Linked DNA regions of Homo sapiens. The protein of the gene in region 1 purifies or fractionates together with the protein of each later gene. This does not show direct contact. Each region holds a gene or a part of one and is shown in the gene's direction. Other genes may lie near its edges.

Evidence for each region.
Region 2: the proteins of EXOC5 (region 1) and VSIG1 purify together in Homo sapiens (co-immunoprecipitation; one large-scale study listed by IntAct). This does not show direct contact.
Region 3: the proteins of EXOC5 (region 1) and ARMC6 purify together in Homo sapiens (co-immunoprecipitation; one large-scale study listed by IntAct). This does not show direct contact.
Region 4: the proteins of EXOC5 (region 1) and EXOC2 fractionate together in Homo sapiens (co-fractionation; 4 studies listed by BioGRID and IntAct, with this or other methods). This does not show direct contact.
Region 5: the proteins of EXOC5 (region 1) and VIPR2 purify together in Homo sapiens (co-immunoprecipitation; one large-scale study listed by IntAct). This does not show direct contact.
Region 6: the proteins of EXOC5 (region 1) and RAB8A purify together in Homo sapiens (affinity purification with mass spectrometry; one large-scale study listed by BioGRID and IntAct). This does not show direct contact.
Region 7: the proteins of EXOC5 (region 1) and FAM20B purify together in Homo sapiens (co-immunoprecipitation; one large-scale study listed by IntAct). This does not show direct contact.

The regions. Positions count from the first base shown.
Region 1 is NC_000014.9:57,230,906-57,234,405, reverse strand, and holds part of EXOC5 (exocyst complex component 5), read left to right. Parts: intron 1-373; coding exon 374-418; intron 419-522; coding exon 523-663; intron 664-1,656; coding exon 1,657-1,739; intron 1,740-2,690; coding exon 2,691-2,900; intron 2,901-3,500. UniProt on the Homo sapiens protein: Component of the exocyst complex involved in the docking of exocytic vesicles with fusion sites on the plasma membrane.
Region 2 is NC_000023.11:108,062,065-108,065,564, forward strand, and holds part of VSIG1 (V-set and immunoglobulin domain-containing protein 1 isoform 2 precursor), read left to right. Parts: intron 1-2,645; coding exon of another isoform or gene 2,646-2,723; intron 2,724-3,500.
Region 3 is NC_000019.10:19,047,103-19,050,602, forward strand, and holds part of ARMC6 (armadillo repeat-containing protein 6), read left to right. Parts: intron 1-3,500.
Region 4 is NC_000006.12:683,140-686,639, reverse strand, and holds part of EXOC2 (exocyst complex component 2), read left to right. Parts: intron 1-3,500. UniProt on the Homo sapiens protein: Component of the exocyst complex involved in the docking of exocytic vesicles with fusion sites on the plasma membrane.
Region 5 is NC_000007.14:159,036,868-159,040,367, reverse strand, and holds part of VIPR2 (vasoactive intestinal polypeptide receptor 2 isoform 1 precursor), read left to right. Parts: intron 1-3,465; coding exon 3,466-3,500. UniProt on the Homo sapiens protein: G protein-coupled receptor activated by the neuropeptides vasoactive intestinal peptide (VIP) and pituitary adenylate cyclase-activating polypeptide (ADCYAP1/PACAP).
Region 6 is NC_000019.10:16,125,389-16,128,888, forward strand, and holds part of RAB8A (ras-related protein Rab-8A), read left to right. Parts: exon of another isoform or gene 1-81; coding exon 82-159; exon of another isoform or gene 160-1,599; intron 1,600-2,048; coding exon 2,049-2,138; intron 2,139-2,637; coding exon 2,638-2,703; intron 2,704-3,500. UniProt on the Homo sapiens protein: The small GTPases Rab are key regulators of intracellular membrane trafficking, from the formation of transport vesicles to their fusion with membranes.
Region 7 is NC_000001.11:179,073,981-179,077,067, forward strand, and holds the end of FAM20B (glycosaminoglycan xylosylkinase), read left to right. Parts: 3' UTR 1-2,587; downstream 2,588-3,087. UniProt on the Homo sapiens protein: Responsible for the 2-O-phosphorylation of xylose in the glycosaminoglycan-protein linkage region of proteoglycans thereby regulating the amount of mature GAG chains.

The DNA.
Region 1 (3,500 bases):
TGTGTGTTTGTGTGTATGTGTGTGGGTGGGTGTGAGTGGGTGTGTTTTGGAGTTGAAGGAGATGGCTAGATGATCATAGGACAAAAATTACTCTAAAGAACTCAGTTACATACTTCATCTTTCTTGTTTTAGTCTAAAGTTCAACAAGGATATGTACCAACTGATAAATTTTATCATAGAAAGTGACTAGGGAGACGATACCTTTATCAAGTTACTGGTTTTCTGCAGTTAATTTTATTTAAGTCCAACAGGTGTTGCTATTGGCCATTTACTGGTAAATAGTCATAGCTTTATGACATATAACACTTCTTTTTTTGAAATAATAATTATTATAATTGAATCAGAATAATAACAATGTGTTTCTTCCTTGTAGGGTTATTCCCATTGTGTTGATGTTTATATAAAGCAGTGCCAGGAGGTAACATAACAGTACACTTTGTTGGATATTATTTTATGCTAATTGTTGTTTTAAAATCATGTAGAAATTATATGTTCACTGTATAAAATGTCTCTGCTGTTTAGGGTGCTTATTTGAGAAATGATATATTTGAAGACGCTGGAATACTCTGTCAAAGAGTGAACAAACAAGTTGGAGATATCTTCAGTAATCCAGAAACAGTCCTGGCTAAACTTATTCAAAATGTATTTGAAATCAAACTACAGGTAATTTTAAATAGTAACAAATTAAATAGTTCTTAAAGCAATATGTAATTTTTTCCCTATATTTTAAAAGTATTTTTAAAATTTAGTTTACTTATGTAATGACCTTAGAAATAGTAATCTAGTTAAGGAGAAAGGAATCCTCATGCTTTTTAAAAAATGTTTTGTATTCACCAAGAAGAAAGTGCTAATCAATAAGTATCATCAGAGAACATGCTTGAAATTTGTGTAGTATTCGTAGTAGTAGTATAATATATTGTGGTAAGATAGCCTTGAAGATTTTTCTTTTTTTTTGGTCCCTGCCTTCACCAATAGATGTCATTTGTGAAACTGAACAAGAATTACAAGAGCAGTCTGTAGAATTTTTAATAATATGGTACTAACCTGAAAAGGGAAAACACAGAAATTTAATTTACCCCCATATCACTGTACTTTCAGATAACATTTCCTAAGCTGTTTACAACTGGATTAAACAACATTCAATAAATGTTTGCTTTTTTTTTTTTTTAACACAATTCAGGAATTTTGATAGTATTGTCATTCTCTAGAAGTGGGGATGTAATGTACAGCATTTCACACATTTACTGTCTAAGAAACCCTGTTTTGGAGTAATGCCTATAGACATCTGAAGGAACACTAGTGTTACCTGGAACTCAGTTTGGGAGATGCTGCCTTAAGGAATTGACTCTATTGTTTGTACTCTCAGTTTTGTTTTTTTGATGCACCTCACAGAGCAGAATAGGCCAATTTAACAGAAAAGGTATTATTCCTAAGACTGATAAAGATCCTCTACAGGTAAATATGAGAAGTGGTAAAATGTAAAAACCTGTTTTAAAATATTTTATGATTGGTTTGTTTTCTGTAATTGCCTTTTTGATTGGATTGTAAGTCAGAAAGGTTCAAAACTGTGGAGTGAATTTTAAAAGAAAAATATCTTGAGAAGTTGTAGAATTTAATATTTACCTAATTAACAGAATGTTAACCTTTTTCTTTTAGAGTTTTGTGAAAGAGCAGTTAGAAGAATGTAGGAAGTCCGATGCAGAGCAATATCTCAAAAATCTCTATGATCTGTATACAAGGTAAATTTTTAATGATTAGAAAATAATAGATAACAGATTTTTTAAATTTTTTTGATAAAAACAAGGAAGTATTCAGGTATTTTTGAATAAGTTTGTCACCAGTTTACCTTTTAGCATTAAATGCTTAGCTGTATAGACTAGTTATATTGTACAAGACTGTATTGTACAACATTCTTAATACATTAACGTCAGGAATTGGATGTTATGCTTTATTTTTTCTCTAAGCATTAGTGTAATTACATTTATCTGCAGTCAAAACTTTAGAAACTGCAAAAGGAAGTGATGTAATCTTAACAAATGACAATTTCAGCTCTAAATCTTCTGTAGGAATTTGTCTTGTGCTTTTGTAAATGTCAGTGTTACTCTTAGAGATTGTCTCAGAAGCTTCATATGGAGTCTTGTGGGGTTTTTTTTTTCCTTGACTTTTCCCAACCCTATTACTCTTCTTCAGTGTCTTCATTTTGGGAGAAGGTTTTTCCAAAGTTACCGTAATGAGGAAGTCCATCTCAACAACAACACTGTTATGACCCTATCTTCAGCAATGGGAAATAGAAAATTAGAGGGAAAGTCCACAAGGACAAAACAAAAGAGGGTGAACAGACAGTAGATCTTTCAGTACTCTGTTTTGGGTCCCATGTGATGAATGGCATTAGACATACTTGAGGCCAATCTGCCACTGTCGCCATTTCTGGACTAGTTAATTGCCTCACAAGTTCTTTTCCTAGGAATTTATAACAGTTCTCAAAACCGTAAAGTTGTTCGTAATATTTCACTGTATTTATATGTAACCCTGTAGAGTTGATCTCTGCATCATAAGTACTCTCCCAGAGTTTAAGAAATGGTGGCTTAACATAAGTCATGAAAGTCACGTTGTAAAAATTTGTATTCCTTAATATTGTTACTATACCTAAAATGTATATTAATCTTTTTCTCCCCCTTTTTCATGAAAAGAACCACCAATCTTTCCAGCAAGCTGATGGAGTTTAATTTAGGTACTGATAAACAGACTTTCTTGTCTAAGCTTATCAAATCCATTTTCATTTCCTATTTGGAGAACTATATTGAGGTGGAGACTGGATATTTGAAAAGCAGAAGTGCTATGATCCTACAGCGCTATTATGATTCGAAAAACCATCAAAAGAGATCCATTGGCACAGGAGGGTGAGTATTTTTGTTAAATACTTCTGTTAAAACTGAAGACATTAATAACTTCATTATATTTGGGCAAATTATCAAATGTTGACTATCATTAGAATTTTCTGTGAAGAGTTCTTTTAATCCAGATTGTTATATTATTGATCAAATCTTGTTCTTAAACCACATGTTGAAATGACCTAACATAACATGATTGAAATGTAAGCCGGGCGTGGTAACTCACTCCTGTAATCGCAGCACTTTGGGAGGCCGAGATGGGCTGATCACCTGAGGTCTGGAGTTCGAGACCAGCCTGGCCAACGTGGTGAAACCCCATCTCTACTAAAAACACAAAAATTAGCTGGGCGTGGTGGCAGACACCTGTAATCCCAGCCATTAAGGAGGCTGAAGCAGGAGAATCACTTGAACCTGGGAGACGGAGGTTGCAGTGAGCCAAGATTACGCCACTGCACTCCAGCCTGGGCGACACAGCAAGACTCCGTGTCAAAAAAAAAAAAAAAAGTAAAGTAGATATTTGTCAATTAAAAAATAATGTTTTAAAACTATCGAGCAGAACACTAGTAATATAAAAAGTTCCATAGTTTCTTTCATTTTTTTTTTTCTCGA
Region 2 (3,500 bases), on another chromosome or scaffold:
GGCAGGCTAACATGGAAATTTGGGGTGGTCTGGTGCCTTTCTGGTCACACAGATGGCTTCATCTTCCATCCAGTCTGTTAATGCTAACACTACAGAGACCCCACCTGTCCCTGAACAGACCATGCCTTGACTCTGCTTAGCATGAATCTCTCAGACAATACTTATTCTTCAAGAATGTTCATAGTGAAAAAATACCCTTTGCCAGTCTCATAAACAACTTAGACAACTTCTTTCCCAGGACCTAGTGTTCTTATGTTCTCTGGCTTCTCAGGTTTTACAACCTGAAATACACAGGACAGAGCCACACAATAAAGAGTTGTCTGCCCAAAATGCCAGTGTCACCCCTACTGAGAAATACTGCAAGTTCTTCCCCACCCCACCATCAAATTTATGTATTGTGTCCCATTCACTTTCTGCTAAATCTGATAAATTAATCTCATGGTAAGGTGTTAGGGACTAGCGAAAGCTTATTTTATTCTCTTCTAAAGAATGCATTGAATGGGACCTTCCATGCCTTCTTCCAAAAGGAGCAACTCAAATGGCAGATACCCAGGCAAATGGAGGGTTGGTAAGAGAGTTGGTTTGGAAGCAAGAGAGTCTTTCTTTTGGTATCCCATTCCTTCCACATGCCATCCCTGCACCACAATACAGTCCAAATAAAATTCTGAGCTTGTGACCATTGCCACCTTATACCTGCACACCCCTTCCCTATCCTATGGCTAGCCCCTCTATCAGCAGTACAAGAAAGCAAGAAGCTGGAAAGGAAAGAATGGGTGGTTTGCTGTGGATGTCCATGTCCTCCACCTTCCCAGAAGGAATCTGCAAAAGCAGCTCTGGAAGCTAACTCCAACTCAGATTCAAACAGAAAGCAGACTGAATTCTTTCAACCCTTCTTGTTTATACTCCATGCTTCTAGTTAGAGAGCAGTGTCACTAAGCTGAGGAAAAAGTCTTTTAGGACAAATCTGGTTCCCAGCTGCACGGCCTTGTGTGAATAGGAACTTGGCACAGTAGGAAGGGAAAGGTTGCTCTGCAAAGAACTGAGGGGCCTACAATTGCAGCTGGCAAATATTGAGGGCATCATGTGGTGAACATACTCAGCATGGGAAGCATCATGCCAATAAATAGCAACAATTGGCAGGAGAAAGGTTGGGCTGGAGCAGGGAATGGAATGGTCCCAAAAGGAGAAGGTTGCCCAGGAATCATCTTTCTCATCTTAAGAAGCACTGTGAGTGCCATCTTAATATATTCAGTGGGAATCAGAAGGTCTGAATTCCAGGTCTGACTGTAAATTGTGTGACCTTGGGAAAATGGCTCCCTCTATTGAGGCCTCGGTGTCCTTTTTTTGTATTAGAAAAGGATGAATTCGAGTTTACTAACCGCAGGCCTCTGGGTCAGATTTGGCCAGTGGATGTATTTCAGTCGGCCTGCCCAGTATTTTGTTTGTTTGTTTCAACAGTTCGAATGCCTTGTTTGCGTTGACTTTTCCGTTCCCTGCAGTCCCCATATCTGTTATGAGCTTACCACTACTTACCAGCCCCTCCCAGCCATTTCCCATATTTCCAATATCCATCGGGCTCCTGAAGGCCCCTTAACCTTAGAAACCACAAACCAAACTATCTCACAGAGGTCTTATAATTAATGTGCAATTATGACTCCACCCATCAGCCTCTAGCGTCACCCTGGGGGCAGGCAGAGAGGACCTTGGGAGAAAGCAGGGCAGTCTACCATGAACCCAAGCACAAAGTGCAGGTGGGTAAAAAATTAACAAGCGCCCCTTAAGGGAACACTGGGATGGATTTCCTTAAAAAAATCACCTCCTCCCCACCTCCACCCAAAGATGTGGCCCATTGTACATCCGGGGCTTTTTCTGGATCTCCATTGCTTTGACGTCTAAATTGATAATATTCTTTCTTTGAAAAGTGTACAAGCCACACAGGATCATGGGCCAGGCTTTGGCCACTGTTCAGCTTTGATTTTTAAAAGAGTTATTCTTTTATGGAAAGTGGAATCAAGTTGTAGCCCTTCCTATATGATTAGATAAGCAGTTTCAGGAAAACACTTCTTTCTTTTTTTCTTTACAAGGACAGTGTGACTGTGTGGACTTCCCCTTAACAGAAAGCCCCTCCATGTATGTGTCTGGCTGCTGCTGTCTACCCCTAGGTACTTTACTTCTTACAGAGAACTGTGAAGCCAAAGCCTTGGCTCTTTTAGGTCTCCATTGTTAGCCCTCACTACCCCCATTTCTGTCTCTAATACCTTTTAGTGTCAATCGTGAGAGGGCAAAATGTATTAGACTACAGCATGAGGAGCTAGCATGTAAGAGGTAGTAAAGGTCTTTTTCATGGGTAAGGTTCCAGGGCCTCATTGCTTATATACTCATTTCACCTTGACTCATGCCCAACTATGGGACTTTTACAGTGGGCATGGACACATGGATACAGTGGACACTTTTACTTCTTCTCATATCCTAATTCTGGCCTAAAACACACCATTTTGGCCTCAAGATCTCTGCAGAAATAAGGTCCTTTTCACCTGGATCCTCTGGGACTTGCTGTGGGCCTCAGGCGTGACTGATGTTGTATCTCATTGTGATGTCATCAAGCATCAGTATAAAACAGGGCTGATGTTTTACACTGTCCACAGTCTCCTTGGGAGGAGGGGAAGTGGCCAGATGTTGAGGCTGTGAAGGGCACTCTTGATGGACAGCAGGCTGAACTCCAGGTAAGAAACAACAAGACCTCAAACTGTCAATTAGAAAGTAAATAAGCCCCATGCTGCCTAGTGAAATTGAAAGCCTGATAGCGTGGGTGCCAACTCAAATGAAAGTAATCCTCTGATGTATTGAACCTCCTTCTGTCCCACTTGAATACCTGGAGTTAATCCTGGCTTTCTGGTTTGGAAGTCAAACAAGACCATTCTGGGGCAAGAGTTTGTGATTTCAGTAGGTGTGAATGAATGAATTATAAATGGCTGCATTTATAATGCAAGCAAGAAAACACGTTGATGTTAGAAAAAACGGGAGAGAAACAAATAGTTTTCTCTGTAAATGTACTCTTTTCCTGGGATTTTTCCCTCAAAATCCAGCTTTCTGCCTTAGTTTTAAAATATATTGACTTTCTGCTTAAAGGAGAATACATTTGAATTCATCTAGACAATATCTTTTGGTTTTCTAATTGCTTTCCCTCTTTTATTGGCCTGTTAAGGTAAAGCCCACAGTACAAGGAATTAGGAAAATTGGATTCCAGATCTGTCTCAACCGTCAATTTTGCCTTTTATTTTTTAACCTCTCTGGGCTTTGGTTTCTTCTGTAAACTGAGGGAAGTGAATTAAATGAACTGTAAGGCCTTCCAGTAGATTTTATGAAAAATTAGTCTCACCAGACTAAGACAATACAGTTTATTGAACAATAACAATCACTTGAATAATATACATTTACATGAAACCAACAAAACATGTACATAGAAGGTGTGTATTATGAAGGGACCTCAGGAATTACCT
Region 3 (3,500 bases), on another chromosome or scaffold:
GCCACCATGCCTGGCTAATTTTAAATTTTATTTTTCATTAAGGAAGAGTGGAAATACATTCTTAGCATAAAGGATTCAAGCAATACTCAAGCATTTATAGTAAAATCTGAAAGTCCCTGCCTTGTCCCTCCCACCAGACACTGGGGTTTGCATCTCAGCGGTCAGTTCGCAACTGAACCAACCCCCTTCTCAAATGCCCTGCAGCATAATTGACCTTTGTGCATCTTGGCTTAGATGTGTAAAAAATGCTTATCTGTTGAGGGAGAAAAAAATTCAACATTGTGATGGTCGTTGAAATTAATCTGTTTGTGTCATAAGATTTGTTGCAAACAGGCTTGTAGAAACAGAAGGAAAATAATGTCTGGAGACTGTCCAGGGAAAAACTGAGCCAGCCAGGCCACATTTATATGTGGGAAGTTGTAGAATGAAAGGCATTAGTCACAGAGACTGAATGACTCCAGGAGTCAATGGGTAAAGCCCCCCTCCATGAGCAAGGTGGTGAGCGCCACAGAAAATTGTCATAGGTAGAACACAGCTGGCTCTGCCACCTGCATTTTAGCAACCATCTGTCAATGAAAATACTCTATAAAATATTTCAAGAGATTTATTCGGAACCAAATATGAGTGACCAAAGGCCCATGACACAGCCTCGGGAGCTCCTGAGAACATGTGTCCAAGGTGGTCGGGCTACAGCTTGGTTTTATACGTTTTAGGGAGACATGAGATATCAATCAATACATGTGAGACGTACATTGGTGTGGTCTGGAAAAGTAGGGCAGCTGAAAGCCGGGGCTTCCAGGTCATAGACACATTTAAAGATTTTTCTGGCCAGGTGCTGTGGCTCACGTCTGTAATTTCAGCATTTTGGGAGGCTGAGGTGGTCGGATTGCATCGAGCTGAGGAGTTTGGGACCAGCCTGGCCAACATGGCAAAACCCATCTCTACAAAAAATACAAAAATTAGGCCACGTGTGGTGGCTCACACCTGTAATCCCAGCACTTTGGGAGCCCAGGCAGGTGGATCACCTGAGGTCAGGTGTTCGAGACCAGCCTGGCCAACATGATGAAACCCCGTCTCTACTAAAAATACAAAAATTAACCGGGCATGGTGGCAGGTGCCTGTAACTCCAGCTACTCAGGAGGCTGAGGTAGGAGAATTGCTTGAACCCGGGAGGCAGAGGTTGCAGTGAGCCAAGATTGCACCATTGCACTCCAGCCTTGGTAACAAGAGCGAAATTGCATCTCAAAAAAACAAAAAACAAAAAACAAAAATTAGCTGGGCATGGTAGTGGGTGCTTATAATCCCAGCTACTTGGGAGGCTAAGGCGGGAGAATCACTTGAATCCAGGAGGCGGAGGTTGCAGTAAGCCGAGATCATGCCACTGTACTCCAGCCTGGGCAACAGAATGAGACTCAGAAAAAAAAAAAAAAGATTTTCTGATTGAAAGAGTTATCTAAAGACCTAGAATCAATAGAAAGGAATATTTTGCTTAAGACGGGTTGTGGAGATCAAGGGTTTATCAAGGAAGCCTCCAGGTAGCAGGCTTCAGAGAAAATAGATTGTAAATATTTCTTATCAGACTTAAAAAGGTGCCAGACTCTTAGTTAATTCTCTCCTGAATCAGGGAAAAGACCTGGAAAGGGAATCTCTGTAGAATGTAGCTTTTCCCCACAAGAGATAGCTTTGCAGGGCCATTTCAAAATATGTCAGAGAAATATATTTTAGGGTAAAATACTTTGATTTCTTTCCATACTGTATTAGTTAGGCTGGAACTTGGTGTCTTATTGCTACAAAAAAGTCTTACGATGATCAGTTATGTCTGACTTCCAAAGGCAGGAAGATAAAATGAGACATATTTGACCGCCACTTCCCATCATGACCTGAAGTAGTTTTTCAGGTTACCTTTGGAATACCTTTGGCCAAGAGGAGGGGTCCTTAGTATGGATGAGGACTTAGATTTTTTTTTTTTTTTTTTTTTGAGACAGGGTCTCCCCAGCTAGAGTGCAGTGGTGTGATCTTAGCTCACTGAAACCTCTGCTTCCCGGGCTCAAGCAATTCTTCAGCCTCAGCCTCCCATGTAGCTGACTACATGGTGTGAGCCACCAACATCTGGCTAATTTTTGTATTTTTTTTAGAGACAGGGTTTTACCACGTTGCCCAGGCTGGTCTTGAACTCCTGAGCTCAAAGCGATACACCTGCCTTGGCCTCCCAAAGTGAAGAGATTACAGGCATGAGCCACCATGCCCGGCCAAGAATTTTATTTTTAGTTTACACATCCTTGCTAACTTAGTAATTCCTTGTGAAATCTTGGTAGTTCTAACTCCAATACTGTGCATCCTCAAAGGCATTTCTGTCAGGAGCTTTTCAAGTTTCTTACAGGGTTTCTGCTGAAGTGCTACACCGCTGTTTGTTATGTAAAATGTGCATAAAAACATTTACCATTGTAACCATTTTTAAATGTAGAGTTCAGTGTCATTAAGTACATTCATAATGTTGTGCAACCATCATGACTATCCATGACTTGCGATACTGAAACAAACTCCATGTTCCTCTTCCCCTCAGCCTCTAGCAACCATCATTCTACCTTCTGTTGCTGCAAATTTGACTACTCCAGGACCTCATATAAATGGAATCACAGGCTGGCCACCCTGGCTTATGCCTGTAATCCCAGCATTTTGGGAGGCTGAGGTGGGCAGATCACTTTGAGGTCAGGAGTTAGAGACCAGCCTGGCCAACATGGTGAAACCCTGTCTCCACTAAAAATACAAAAATTATCCGGGCGTGGTGGCACATGCCTGTAGTCCCAGCTGCTCAGGAGGCTGAAGCGGGAGGATTGTTTGAACCCAGGAGGTGGAGGTTGCAGTGAGCTGAGATGGTACCACTCCACTCCAGCCTGGGTGACAGAGGAAGACTCCATCTAAAAAAAAAAATTTTTTTTAAATAAATGGAATCACAGTATTTGTCTTTTGGTGACTGTCTTATTTCACTTAGCGTAATGTCCTCAAGGTATATCCATAGCATACTATGTGCCTGAATTTCTTTGTTGTCATTGTAGTGTTTTTTTGTTTGTTTGTTTTTCTTTTTGGAGACAGAGTCTCTCTCTGTCGCCCAGGCTGGAGTGCAATGGCACGAGCTCAGCTCCCTGCAACCTCCAACCTCTTGGCTCTGATGAATCATGCTGCTATGAACATGGGTGTACAGGTATCTCTTTGAGACTGTGCTTTCAGTTCTCTTGAGTGTATCCCCAGAAGTGGAACTGATGGGTCACACAGTAATTCTGTTTGATTTTCTTTTTTGAGATGAATGCTCCGTATGTTGCCCAGGCGAGTCTTGAACTCCTGGGATCAAGTGATCCTCCTGCCTTGGCCTCCCAAAATGCTGGGATTACAGGCATGAGCCACCACGCCTGGCTTCTCTGTAGGTTTGAATTGCATTTTTCCTAATGATTAGTGACATTGAGCATCTTTTCATGTATTAGTGGCCATTTGTATGTATTCTT
Region 4 (3,500 bases), on another chromosome or scaffold:
AGAACAGCTGAGTAATCCGGTATATATATAACAGATCTCTTTTATGGGGGCTCTGAGAGCTAAGTTGTCAGGCATTCCCTATATACTTGTCTGGCTTCCAGTATTCCTTCCTAGTCATCTCATGCACATTCTCGTCCCCTTAATCTCTCACCTCCAAACATTGTAGAGGGAGGGAAGGCCTTTATTCCCATTCCTAAAATAAATAAATAAAAATCAAGTGTCATTTATCAGTTATATGGTTTAAATTATTGGATTATTTTCCCAAAAGAATTAAAATATAAACAAATATGCTTTCATTTGAAACCATAGATAGTAGTTCATGTATTTTTTTGTTTGTAGAGGTAGAGAAGGAAAAGAAGTATAAAAAGAGGTCCAGGAGGCCGGGCGCGGCGGCTCACACCTGTAATCCCAGCACTTTGGGAGGCCGAGGAGGGCGAATCATGAGGTCAGGAGTTTGAGACCATCCTGGCCAATATGATGAAACCCCGTCTCTACTAAAAATACAAAAAAATTAGCTGGGCATGGTGGCGCATGCCTGTAATCCCAGCTACTTGGGAGGCTGAGGCAGGAGAATCGCTTGAACCAAGGAGTCGGAGGTTGCAGTGAGCCCCACTGCACTTCAGCCTAGTGACAGAGTAAAACTCCGTCTCAAAAAAAAAAAAAAGAGGTCCAGGAAAGCAGGATACATTAATACATTACTTCTTACCTGTTCAGTCCAACCTGGCGACAGAGCAAGACTCCGTCTCAAAAAAAAAAAAAAAAAAAAAAAAGAGGTCCAGGAAAGCAGGATACATTACTTCTTACCTGTTCAGTCCTCCCCTTCTGCAAATGGCCCTTCTGAGACCCAGCGAGTCTTCTGCCCTTATCAGGCCGTAACTCTATACAATTTGGCCCCTATGAGTTCTTTCAGATCTGTGCATGCTTGTATTTTTGTTAACTATGATTTGGGGATGGAGCAGGAGGAGCAAGAGGATTAATTTGGAAAACTGGATTACAGAGTTCATGACCCTGTCTCTGAGACTTGTCCCACTGTGTGCTGTTATATGGTAGAATTTGTGGCAGTGCTAATGTAACTTGCACTTGATCTCACTCAGGAAGTGTGGAGTCTGTGTTTATAGAGAACTGGGGAAGAAAATCACCATTTTCCCGAACCCTTTCCCCAATATCTCTGGGCAATCCCTTTGGGTCCAGCCCAACCCAGCCCAGCAGGGACAAGTCTGTCTTAGGTTAGGTTGGGCCTGACTCTAGAAAGATTTGGTGAATTCTCTACTTTGATTATATTTTATGGTGCCCTGAGAGTTGGCTGAGCCTAATTTTACTGTTGAAACTCACTAGGCAGCTCTGCAACAGGATTCTTCTGGGGTCCTCTGGACCCAAAGTGGTTCTGGACAGCTAAGGCTACTGAGATTCTGCTTGATTTGTTCCCTGGTGATGCCAGTGCTGCCAGGTTGAGGCATATATGGGGAAGGGTGGACGTTTGGGAGGGTTGTGTGTGTGTGTGTGTGTGTGTGTTTTCAAATGATTGTGGGGAAAATCACCTTTCTATAGTCTGATCTGTTAGCGAAATAGTGTTTTCACATCATGAGGCCTTCCGTGGCCTGTTGAGTAGAGGTTATCCTAGTCTTCAGTGAGTCAGAACTTCTGTATTTTTCTGGTTCCTGGCCTTCTCTAGCTGAGAAGAACATCTGGGAGCATGACAAGGTGAGACCGTGATCACTCATTTTGTTCAGATTTCTTGTCTGCTGTTGAAATCAGCGAAACTCTTCATTACTAAATAGTAAAAAGTACTGCTTTTATGATTCTAAAACTACTTTCAGTTGTGGTTTCATTTCTGATTTTTTTCTTTATATTATTACTGCTAACTTTTTCTGTGTATTTTTAGTCTGAAGTTCTGTGAAAAATGACAACTTACTGTCTTTTTTTCTAGTAGTAAATATTTTGGAAAATTAAAATTGTGCCACAGTTTTAATTTGAGAAATTAAATATGGGAAAATTATAGAATTAAAATTTTCTGACTTCTGTTGCAGAAAACACTTTAAATCCATCCCTGTATGCTTCATTAAAGGAAAAGAGGCAGATGGTTTAAAATTAATATAGTATATCTATAAGGAAAATGTATTTACTTAAGTGTACAGTATAAATTGTAAGAAAATGTGGCCTTTTGTCTTGATTTTAGTGAAATGCTTTTGTAATAGTAATTTTCTCTTTTGACCTGTGATGGATAGGAGGTTAATTGATGTTAAATGGATGCTTTGTTAATCCTTCATCAGCTACTAAATTGGTATGGGGGAGTACAGGTCAAGACTACACAAGGCCATGACCAGCTTGTTTTCTCAGGGAGGTTTATGGATTCCACCCCTCCCCCTTCTCTAAACCACACATCACTCTCTCCAGCTGCACATAGGGAAGACTCTCCTGTCTCCCCTCCCCCTCTTCCTGCGGTCCTGTCTCCCCCTCCCTAACCTCATCCTTCTCCCTCTCTGGGCTGCTGCAGAGTGACAGCTTGTAGATGTTGCGTGCGAGGGAGTTCAGCTGGCGCTGTGTGGTCCGAGTGTGTGGTCTCCCGCTCAGCCGAGAGGCTGCTAACAGGGTGGATGAGAGAGAGAGCAACACTGTTTACTTTAATTTATTTCGGATGCCGGAATTGTGCCCAGAGTTTCTCCTGAGCTTGATTCCATAGCTAGCAGCTTCAATCCTTCGCAGCTGCGGTGCGTTCTGAACTCTGGGCTGTCCTTTCCTGACAGGCACTTTCCATAGCATCTGCCTGCTTAATCCCTCACGGCTCAGAAATGTTAACGGCACTGTTGAGTGCTGTGATTATTTTGCTTTCACTATGTCAAGATTTATGGCCTTCGAGAAGCTTCTTTTGAGATAGAGCTAGAGAAGGAAAGCAGAATTTGTAAGATCAGTGACAAAGTTGATGTATTTTTGGAAATTGGAAAAGCTATTATACAAAATTTGGGTCAAATTAATCCAACTTTGCTCATATAAAAGAACCTGGGAGTTAGCGACATCCTGTCATGTTTAACAGTTTTAATGAAATTAACCAATTTAAGCTGACGGTTGGTTTCTTGACCTTTTCTGAAACTCTGCATTGATTTTGGCATGCCTGTTTACCATAGTTATTATATTTGTCAGCGGTGATATTGGTTTATTTCATCCTAAAGATTTGACAAGTCGAGACAAATGAAACTTTGTTTTTATGTAGTAGTATAAATTTAGGAGAATATCTTTTTATCCAATCCTTTCATTATGAATAGCTTAGTAATATTTTCTTGATTTTGTTCCTCTCTCATTCCTGAACATTATTGTTGAGATGGTCAAGTATTTTGTTATTTGAATAAACATATGTAGACTCTTGATATCACTTGGGATTTTGCATTGTTTAGCTTCTTTATTTTCATGTCTTCCTGGCAGTCTTGCTGGAATGGAGTTGGTGGTGTTGATGTTTGTCAAGGATTAGAAAGTCTAGGCCACTCACATCTTCCCGCAAGGTCAGT
Region 5 (3,500 bases), on another chromosome or scaffold:
CTCACGTGCTCACACAGAGGCTCCCCGACAAGGCCACGGGGCTGAGGAGGGACCAGCTGTTGACTGGGCACCGGGCCTTGGTGGGTCTCCTGGCCGGGGTTCCTCACATCAACCCTGTGGGTGGCAACTGGCCCTGGAGTTGGGCCCCTCCTGTGGTGCTCTGGAGCCTGTGTAATGAGGTTTGAAGGTCACACTGTAGAAAATGAAGTCAGTAGAGGCCTTGTCATTCCCCAGACCTCCCTTCCTCAGTGTGCTTGTTTGGTGAATGGGCACATGGGAAAAAATGCAGAGATGTTTTTGTTCCCATTTAAGAAGAAAATGGAATCGTCTTCAGCACACTCTTCCTGCGTCCTCTTTGCTCCTTCAGCAGAATGTGCCAGGGCCCCACCAGGTCGGCGCCTGCTTTCAGGCGGCACACGGTCCCTCATGTGGCATGGTGTTCTCCGCGTAGCCCATCCTCTGGTATGGGGCCTGCTCTGCACTTTATTTTTCTCTTTTGCCGCTGCAGGCATCACCGGACATGCGTCTTTATGGACTGGTGTTCTTATTTCTGTCAGGTGGAACTCGCCAGTGAGGTTGCCAGGTCAGAGGGTGTCTCCATCCACGTGTGCTCCTGTCGCAGACATTTACTTCTCAGTTCTGGAGGCCTGAGACCGAGGCACCACCAGATTCGGGTCTGACTTCTCTGTGTCCTCACGTGGTGGAAGGGGCGAGGGATGTTGCTGGGGTCCCTTTACAGGGGCACTAATCCCATCGCAAAGCGCCACCCACTAACACCCTCCCACAGCGGGTGGGGCTTCAACATGTGAATTCTGGCAGCATAAAGAAGCCTCCAGCCCATTGCAAAGGGCATGCATATTTTTATTTTTTGTTTTGTTTTGTTTTGTTTTTTGACACAGACTCACTCTGTTTTCCAGGCTGGAGTGCAGTGGCAGGATCTCGGCTCACTGCAACCTCCACCTCCCAGGTTCAGGCGATTCTCATGTCTCAGCCTTCTGAGTAGCTGGGATCACAGGCAGGTGTCACCACACCCAGCTAATTTTGTGTGTGTGTGTGTGTGTGTGTATTTTTAGTAGAGATGGGGTTTCACTATGTTGGCCAGGCTGGTCTCGAACCCCTGACCTCAAGTGATCCCCCCGCCTTGGCCTCCCAAAGTGCTGGGATTACAGGTGTGAGCCACTGCACCCGGCTGCATGTGTATTTTTAAATTGTAGTAAATCTGTTTTGCTAGATTGCCTTCCAAAAGGCTGAGACAGCTGACAGCTGCACGTGGGATCACACCAGAGCCCAAAGACCTGACTGGTTTTACCATTTTGCCTGTCTGGTGGGCGTTGGCACTGCCTCTGTGGCTCTCATGCACACTCCAGGGCAGCGCACCTGCTGAGAACTGGCATCTTTCCACAAGCTGTTCCGGCCCTCTAAAACACCGCATTCATCTGTAATATTGGCGTCATAAAAATTAAACATTTGTCATTTCTATTGTAAATATGTTTCCAGATTCATGATTTGTCAATTGTATTTTTATGGTATTTTTACCATCTAAAAGCTTTTAAAGTTTATATAACCAAAATTGCTTTCCATCCTTTTAGCACTTCTTGTTTTCATTTCAGATTTCCCGTCTTGGTTAAGAGGTTTCTATTCTGAGATTGTTCATTTGTGTCTTGGTTCATCTGCAGTTTACTCCTTGTGTTTAAGATGCGGTCTTTTACCGAGAGACAAAAGAAGGCACGTTGCATCCCGATGGGTGACTAACTCCCAGAATCTCACCTCCCAGAGATTTTAAAACTTGATTTATTTCACTTTACTTTTCAAATGAGTGGCAGTAAGTCACAAATTGACTTACTGTGACTCTCCTGCATCCATGGCTGTGTTATCATGTGTGTCTTTCCACATAAGAGGCTCTGTCCTGATGCCCAGGGCAGAACTTGCTGGGATCTGAGTGTCCATTCACCAGGCGTTGACACACGAGATCCGCGTGCAGGCACTCGCCTTACTCTGGTGGCAAAGATGGACAATAAGGGTAACTCTCACCTGTGCAGTGTCTCAGAAAATGAAGCACCCACCCTGCTATGCTTGGGAAAAAGGAAAAGCAGAGGAAGGCAAGGCAGATCCAGAGCACTGGGGAGGTCGGGGCCGCCTGCAGGGCTCAGGGGAGGTCGGGGCAGCCTGCAGGGCTCAGGGGAGGCCAGGGACAGCCTGCAGGGCTCAGCGGCTCTCAGGACCCCGGAGGCCAAATTGAAAGGCCACCATATGAAAGTATATCCACCCATATATAAGTGTATCCACCCATATATATAAGTATACCCACCCATATATAAAAAAGTATATTCACCCGTATATATTTATAGGGATAGCCATCTGTTATATGTAGGTAGTATATCCACCCATACATATGTAAGTATATCCACCCACAAATATGTATAGGTGTATCCATCTGATATATGTATCAGATATATATCTGCCATACGTATGTACACCCACCTACATATGTCTATAGATATGAACATAAATACAGAAATAAGAATGGAAATGAAAATACTATTCTTTTTCAGCACACTTTATATAAGCTTAGTGATTAAAAGTAGCAGTTTCATGGTTGCTCATGAAGCTGAAATGCCTGGTACATTTAGTTAGATGAAGGTCTGAGAGATTAAAATAGATGGATTTTATATAATAATGCAATTCTTTCCCAGTGAAAATCCTTTTAAAATGTCCTCAGAAAATATTTTATTTGCTAGATTTCTCTTGTTTTCCCCTTTATTTTTTCATGTTTAGTTAAGTTACCCAATATTAAAACCAGTTTTTTACAATTGAGGAACTTACATAGTTGTCAAAAATTTAAAAAAAAAGTCTGGGGCCTGGTGTGGGTCCACTGCTTTCTCTTCCCAGGCGCTGCTCACCTGAGCTGCTAGTGAGGGCAGCTGGCATGTGCCGCGCCCTCTACCTGCACTCGTGTTCTGTTCACACAAAGGGACAGAGGCCAGAGCCCTGGGCCCCTGCAGGGCCCCTGCCACCCATACCTCGCCCCACACATGACCTCCTGCCGGCTCTTCTGGTTCTTTGCTGGCCGGCAGGACCACTGCGGGGGTTCCCGTGTTGAAGCAGGTCAGAGAAGGGGAAGTGGAGTAGCCGAGGGGAGGAGCTGAGAACGGGAGGGCCAGGGAGCTGTGCGGCCTGTCTAGGACCCTCCAGCAGTGAGTGCGCTCACCTCAGGCAGTGCTGTTCACAGTTGCGTTTGCAGTGATCCTCCTCTGGAGCCGCGGATACAAAGGTCCCAGTGCCACCAGCAGGCATTCCTGGCCAGCGCCCTGGCCTCTGTGTTAATCACTTTCCTTCCCAATGGCACCGGTGTCTCCTTCCTTGCACAGATACCAAGCGCCCTGTGTCCTGGAGCGGCACTGCCTGCTGGTAGCTGCTGTTACCGGATGAGGTCATGCTTTCCTCTCCTCTGTTTGCGGTTTCCAGGTGGGCTGCAAGCTGAGCCTGGTCTTCCTGCAGTA
Region 6 (3,500 bases), on another chromosome or scaffold:
CCACTGTTCTCTGGTGCCGCTGAGGCCTCCCTTCCAGAGCCTGCAGCCGATCAGGCACCTGTGTCTTCTCTCCCCGCGCAGGGCATCATGCTGGTCTACGACATCACCAACGAGAAGTCCTTCGACAACATCCGGAACTGGATTCGCAACATTGAGGAGGTGAGGCCCTCCGGCTCCTCCCACTGTCCCTGCTTCAGTCCTTGTCCCAGAGCCCTCTGGTTTACTCATGAGAAGGCCAAGGTGCAGAGACACATACAGGCCACTTGCCCACAGCCTCCTAGTCAGGGACATGGTGGGAGCAGGGACTGAGATGCAAGCAGCCGGCCCCAGGGACCACACACTGGCCTGGCCCCACCCCGGAGCCCCTCGGAGCCCATCCCTCCAGCTAGGCTGTTGGATCTGGCCAGTGTCATGGTTATAAGAGAAAGGATATCCAAGCTTGTGGTCACCATGAGTGTTGGGTGCTTTCTAGAGAAGGAAGGGTCTAGCACAGGTGTGACCCTTGTAGTTGGAGGGTGTGGTGAGCAGGCGTCAGTTGTACTTTGAGCTATATCGGAGCAGGGTGTGACCTGGTACAAACGACCTGTGTTCAGACCTTGAACCATAGAGCAGTGAGAAGTAGGCCAACCCCTCCTCCCCTCCCAAAGCCAGCATCTTCATCTTCTGCTCCCCAAAGAGCTGACCTCACCCCCAAAGCCTTCCTGGCTGCCGGCACCTGCAGCTTTCTATAACTAACCATGTGGGGCTTCAGGTCTGAGGCACAGCCAGAGAACTTTTCCCATCTATAAAACCACAGCAAAAGGGCATATCACTGTCCACCCAGGACTCATGGACCTCCCAGGCCAGGCCGAGAGGCCACCCCATCATTTGTGAGTCATTGCACTGGGCTCACCTCCCCAGTGACCCTGAGAGGGCTGTGCTGCCAAATTTGCCAGTGCAGGGCTGCACCCCAGCTGGGAAAGCTGTCTTCATCCGTGGAGAGGAGGAGAGCCTGGTCTTTGTGAAAGGTCTCTGTTTCTGGCCAGCGGGCAGGAGCCACCTTCTGGTTCATGGGAAGTGAGGCAGGGAGTGGCGCAGTAGGTTCCAGAGACCAAGTCTGAGCTGGTGGAAGAAGACAGCAGTTTCCAGTGTCCCCGTCCTCCAGGAAGCGTGGTCCGCTCCATGGGGACCCAGGGAGACTTGACGAAGGAGCTGCCTTTGGGTATGAGGGCAGAGTTTGGGCAACATCAGACAGGGTGGTGAAGTGCCTGCAGCTGGTGACGGCCTCGAGTTGCGACCACCTCAGGCACGGCCTGTTTCTGGAGCCCAAAAATAGTTGAAATGTCAGGGCCAGGCGAGGTGGCTTATGCCTGTAATCCCAGCAGTTTGGGAGGCTGAGGCGGGCAGATCACCTGAGGTCAGAAGTTTGAGACCAGCCTAGCCAACATGGCGAAACTCTGTCTCTACTAAAAATACAAAAAATTAGCCTGGTATGGTGGCAGATGCCTGTAATCTCAGCTATTCGGGAGGTTGAGGATCGCTTGAACCTGAAGGCAGAGGTTGCAGTGAGCCGAGATCATGCCACTACACTCCAGCCTGGGAGACAGAACGAGACTCCATCTCAAAAAAAAACAAAAAAAAAAGTGTCAAAGCAGAAGGTCCCAGGACAACAGCTGGGGCCTCTTGCAGAGGAGCCAGGGAGGGAAGGAGGAAAGCCAAGGTCGGGGGGTAAATATCTCAGCCTCACTCACCTCCCATAGGCTAGACCCGCCCAGCATCCCAGGTGCGGGGGCTTGATTGATACAGCCATAGAAGCTGCCAGAAAGCATTTCAGAAAATGTGCATTTGCTCAGAGTAGCAGCTAGAACCCTGGCCCCAGCCCTGGCATTGGCTGTGTGACATGGGGCCGGCTGCTTGGCCTCTCTGAGCTTCAGCTTGTCCCTTAGACCAGGCTGTACCTAGCAGTCCTGACCCCACCGCTCTGATTTCTGGGGACAGACTGTGTGTTGGCAGAGGCACCTGGCCTGTGTCATCCGGTCTGATCCCCCGTCTGTCCCCCTCCCTCTCAGCACGCCTCTGCAGACGTCGAAAAGATGATACTCGGGAACAAGTGTGATGTGAATGACAAGAGACAAGTTTCCAAGGAACGGGGAGAAAAGGTGGGCATGGTGGCACAAGGGGCAGAGGGCCTCGGGGTCTTGGGGTTCTTGTGCAGAGGCCTTCCCCTGTCCCTCCTCTGCCCCAGGGGCCTGAGACGAGTTGGTCACCCCAGTGGGGCACGTGCCATGGGATGACAGAAGCACACACCCAGCCGGGGCTTCTTGGGTGCACTCTGCGGGCATCTCATCAAAACCTACCATGGCCCCGCTCCAGACTTTCAAGACCACAGGAGCGGGGAACAGAGCCATAGTTTGATCCCAGCAGGTCCCCGCCACCCTCCCATCTCAGCTGCCATCCCCAGCAACTCCATGCCCTGTGAGGCCCTGTGGAGGGGCATTCACTATAGAATTGAGGGAGTGATCCAGGAAGTCACGCCCACAGCCCCAGCCCTGTTGCTGCTCCCTCTTGGCGCCGGCCCTGCCTTCAGCTCCTGTTTTAGGCAAGCTCAGATGCGCCCGGCGGCTGGTGTGCTCATGCGTGTGCCTCCCTCTCTCACAGCTGGCCCTCGACTATGGAATCAAGTTCATGGAGACCAGCGCGAAGGCCAACATCAATGTGGAAAATGTGAGTCCCGGGCCCTGCTGGGAGACATGGGGCCTGCAGGATCGGCCCCTTCAGGCTAAAGGGGGAGCTGGCGTCCTCCGAGGAGGTCCTGCCAGACGGACCAGCCTCGGGCTCAGGGCTGCCAGTCAGTCCTCTGAGGGACATTTCCTGGGCAGTGCCACGTGCCAAGCACAGGCAGCCCCTGGGAATGTGCCATCAGCAGGGACAGGCACCACAAAGGGCACCTAGGACGCATCTCACGGGCTCTTGGGCAGCCCTGGGGAATAGGCACGGTTTTACAGGTGAGGAAACTAAGGCTCAGAAAGACCCAGCTCTGTGTTTACCCTCTCAGCCACACCACTCACCCTGGAGAGGCCCCTGTCAAAAAAGCCCAGACATAGCAGGGAGCCCTGATGGGACCTGGGCCCATGCCACCCTCCCCTCTCCACGGGGCGACCCCAGCCCTGCGGCCGATCCTGTGATGTTTCCCCATCCTAGTCATGTTTCCAAGGCGGATCTTCCATATCACTCCCGACCTAAAGTCTCTATGCTGACGTGAAGACAAAGGCTAGACTCCTTGCCTGGCGTGGAAGGCCCTCCCTCACCGGCTACAGCTGGTGTTTGCCACCCAGGGCTCAGGCCTTGCCCTCCCCAGGCCACCTGGGCTGCTCCCTTCTCCAATACGTCACTGCATTTCCCTCCTGTGTGCCCCTTTTTCTGCCTGCCAGGTTCCCTTTTCTAGTCAGGGCCTGGCCCTGGGGGCCTCTCCCCAAGAACACCTTCAGTCTCCCCTGGGCCTTCCTCCGCACCCCAAGCCA
Region 7 (3,087 bases), on another chromosome or scaffold:
ATATATAAACAGTGTGGTTGAATACATTTAATGCCAGCCATTGGAAACTAGTTTTAGGCAACCACTCTCAAAAACAGCTTTAGAATTTATGCCCAGTTTTCTTGCATTGAAAGATAACTGAGTAATAACCTGTAACTATTTTTAAATGGCATGAAATTAGGAAACTTTTGTACATTTTATATACATTTTGAGATGAACAGAACAATGGGCTGAGTTATAAAAAGCGTGTATTGAATTTAAGAAGACAGACTAGCACAAAACACAGAATTCGTGTTAACCAAAGGAGGCATTGATTTCAGTTTTAAGGCTACTCAGTGTTGTGTGTCCAGGGAAATTCACAGCTCAGTATGAGAATACCTTGGTTAGTGCTCACCCACAAGCTTCCAGGAGCCAGCTGGGAGGAGACAATAGGAAGAGATGTCATCTCTGCTCTCCCTGTAAATGTTAGTTGAACTAAGTTATGGATTTGTGGTCTTTCAAATACATGACGCCTTTAGTATGCCACACTGAAATGAATAAGAAGTCTTCTGAAACTGGGAACTTCATAACATTGAAGGCAGAAGATTCTGCTAAGGAAAAAAGCAGGCAGGAAAGAAAATGTCTCATCCTTTCTTGAAAGCATTTGCAGAAAATATATCATTTCATTTTATTCCCATCTGTTTTCAAACTCGTGATCTTAAAAGGCATTCTGATGATAAATTTAGAATTTTCATCTATAAAATTTAGAACTCTAATCCATAAAGTTAGAATTGAGCTAATAGAGTGGTATGACATGGCACTAAAAATATAAATTTTTGTTGTAAGTCAGGATTGGAGTAAGCTGGAAAAGTATGTTTAGGCAAATCTTGGAGAAAACCAACCATAAACTTACAGCTCTAAAATTCAGAAAGCCCTAAAATTTCAAACACTGTTTGAAAGAAGAGGTGGGGGCCGGGTGCCGTGGCTCATGCCTGTCATCCCAGCATTTGGGAGGCTGAGGCAGGCAGATCACCTGAGGCCAGGAGTTCGAGACCAGCCTGGCTGGCTAGCATGGTGAGACCGTCTCTACTAAAAATGCAAAAATTAACAGGGCACGGTGGCATGCGCCTGTAGTCCCAGCTACTCGGGAGGCTGAGGCAGGAGAATCACTTGAATCCAGGAGGCGAAGGTTGCAGTGAGCTGAGATTGTGCTGCTGCACTCCAGCCTGGGAGACAGAGCGAGACTCTGTCTTAAAAAAAAAAAAAGGAGGTGAATTTTTTTTTAAGTTTTGTAACACTGTCCTACTTTATTTATTAGAATCTAAGGCTGTTACAATCAAGTCGTTGCAGGGTTTGGATCAGCTGTAAGTTAGGTATGCCTACCAAACATCCAAAGGTAGACGTGGAGACATTTTAATACTACAAAACTAGGAAAATCAGAACTCATGGCCATTTCCTGCCCTCCTCCAACTTGTTAAAACATGTTTATTCTAAAGTTCGAATGGATAAATTTGAGTATAAAGGTTTTGTTATAAAACTGTTCTTTAGTGTAAGGCTGCATTGTGGGTTTGGGGGAAATGTAAATAATTTTCTGTGTAAAACAAATTCATAGGATCTGATTTGCTCAGAGTATTATTCAAGAATGTATTAATAAGGCATTGCCCCCTGTTTGCACTCAGGGTTAATATGTCAAATGAAATTTAAGAAGGAAATGGAAGAATTCAGGTACATTAATTGCATATTATTTTGGGAAAGATGAGTCCTATACGTGGCAATTTTTCAATGTCATCTGAAGCCAGCATTATCTTCCAAAGAAATCGATCTTTTTTTTCTAAAAAAAAAAAATGCTTTTGCCTTCCCTTCCCTTCCCATCCGCCATATTTCTTCAGCCTTTCTTCTCGATCACCCGTGTATTCTTTGACCAGTAAATGACCACACCTCAATGATGGTAAAACAGCATCATCAGTAAGCTATCTTATATGCCTCATCCTGTGAGTTTGAGCTTCAGGAAACATGAGTAAAAGTATATGTAATGTATATAGTCGTATATGTATTCTAGCAAGAAAAACATATTTATTTTGACAAAGGGGAACACTGACTTTCTGAAGGATTCAGAAAGAACCTTAGTGAAAGGTTCTCAGTCTCTGAGAGTGGACCCTAATTAACATAAAGACCATTCATCAGCGAATAACTACTGAGCAACTCTAGTGTGCCAGCACAGGCCAGACATACTAGTGAGCCAGGCACATCTGGCCTTGGGAAACTCATCCTACAGGGGAAGGCCAGTTTTTTTCCCTTCAATTCCTCAAGTCTGGGTGGTGACAAGGTAGGGGCTAGGTACTGGACTACCACAGGTTTTTAGGAACTAAGGTGTTTCTCATAAACACAAAATGTTGGGTGAAACTGGGAACAACTACTCAGAAGCTCATTTATTTGCTTAAATGGAAAGTGTGGGAGCCACTACCCTCTCTTTTGATCTGCCAAGGATTTCCTCTCAGAGCTGTTGCACAGACAGAGATTGTACTTGGTAAGATACCAAACAAGACAGATATGGATCTAAATTTCTAATGTGTTCTATGGGTTTCAATTCTGAAAAAAGAAAATGAATAAAGATTTTAATAAATATTGATATCTGATCTTTTCCTCTTCTTTCCCCCTTCAGGATATTTCCAGTGGTTCCTATTTCAGTTCCCTTCCTGTTAGGGGACAGAAGAAGATTACATCTTTTGTGACCACTTAAACTTCCACAGGGATAGTTTCACAGTACCTGGTGGATTAGACCTTTAAATTTCCTCACCAGTCTTCAAACGGTTCATACTAGATTGTAACTATACCAAAATTTTCTATGGGATCATTGTTAGGTGCTTTTTGTATATTTAATAGTTAACTCCATTTTTGCAGCTTCCTTAGAGGTAAAGAATTATGAATCCTGAAGAACTTGTCAGCACACTACAAAAAAGGCAGGAAGAGAAGGCCAGTTGCCCTAGTAGTACTTCTTAGGACACCTAGATTTTTAACTTTTGAAATAGAATCCAGCATCATAAACCTCAACCAGGTAACTGAGCAAAGCTCTTAAGATTTTTATTGGGCCAGGCACCATGGCTCATGTCTGTAATCCCGGCACTTTGG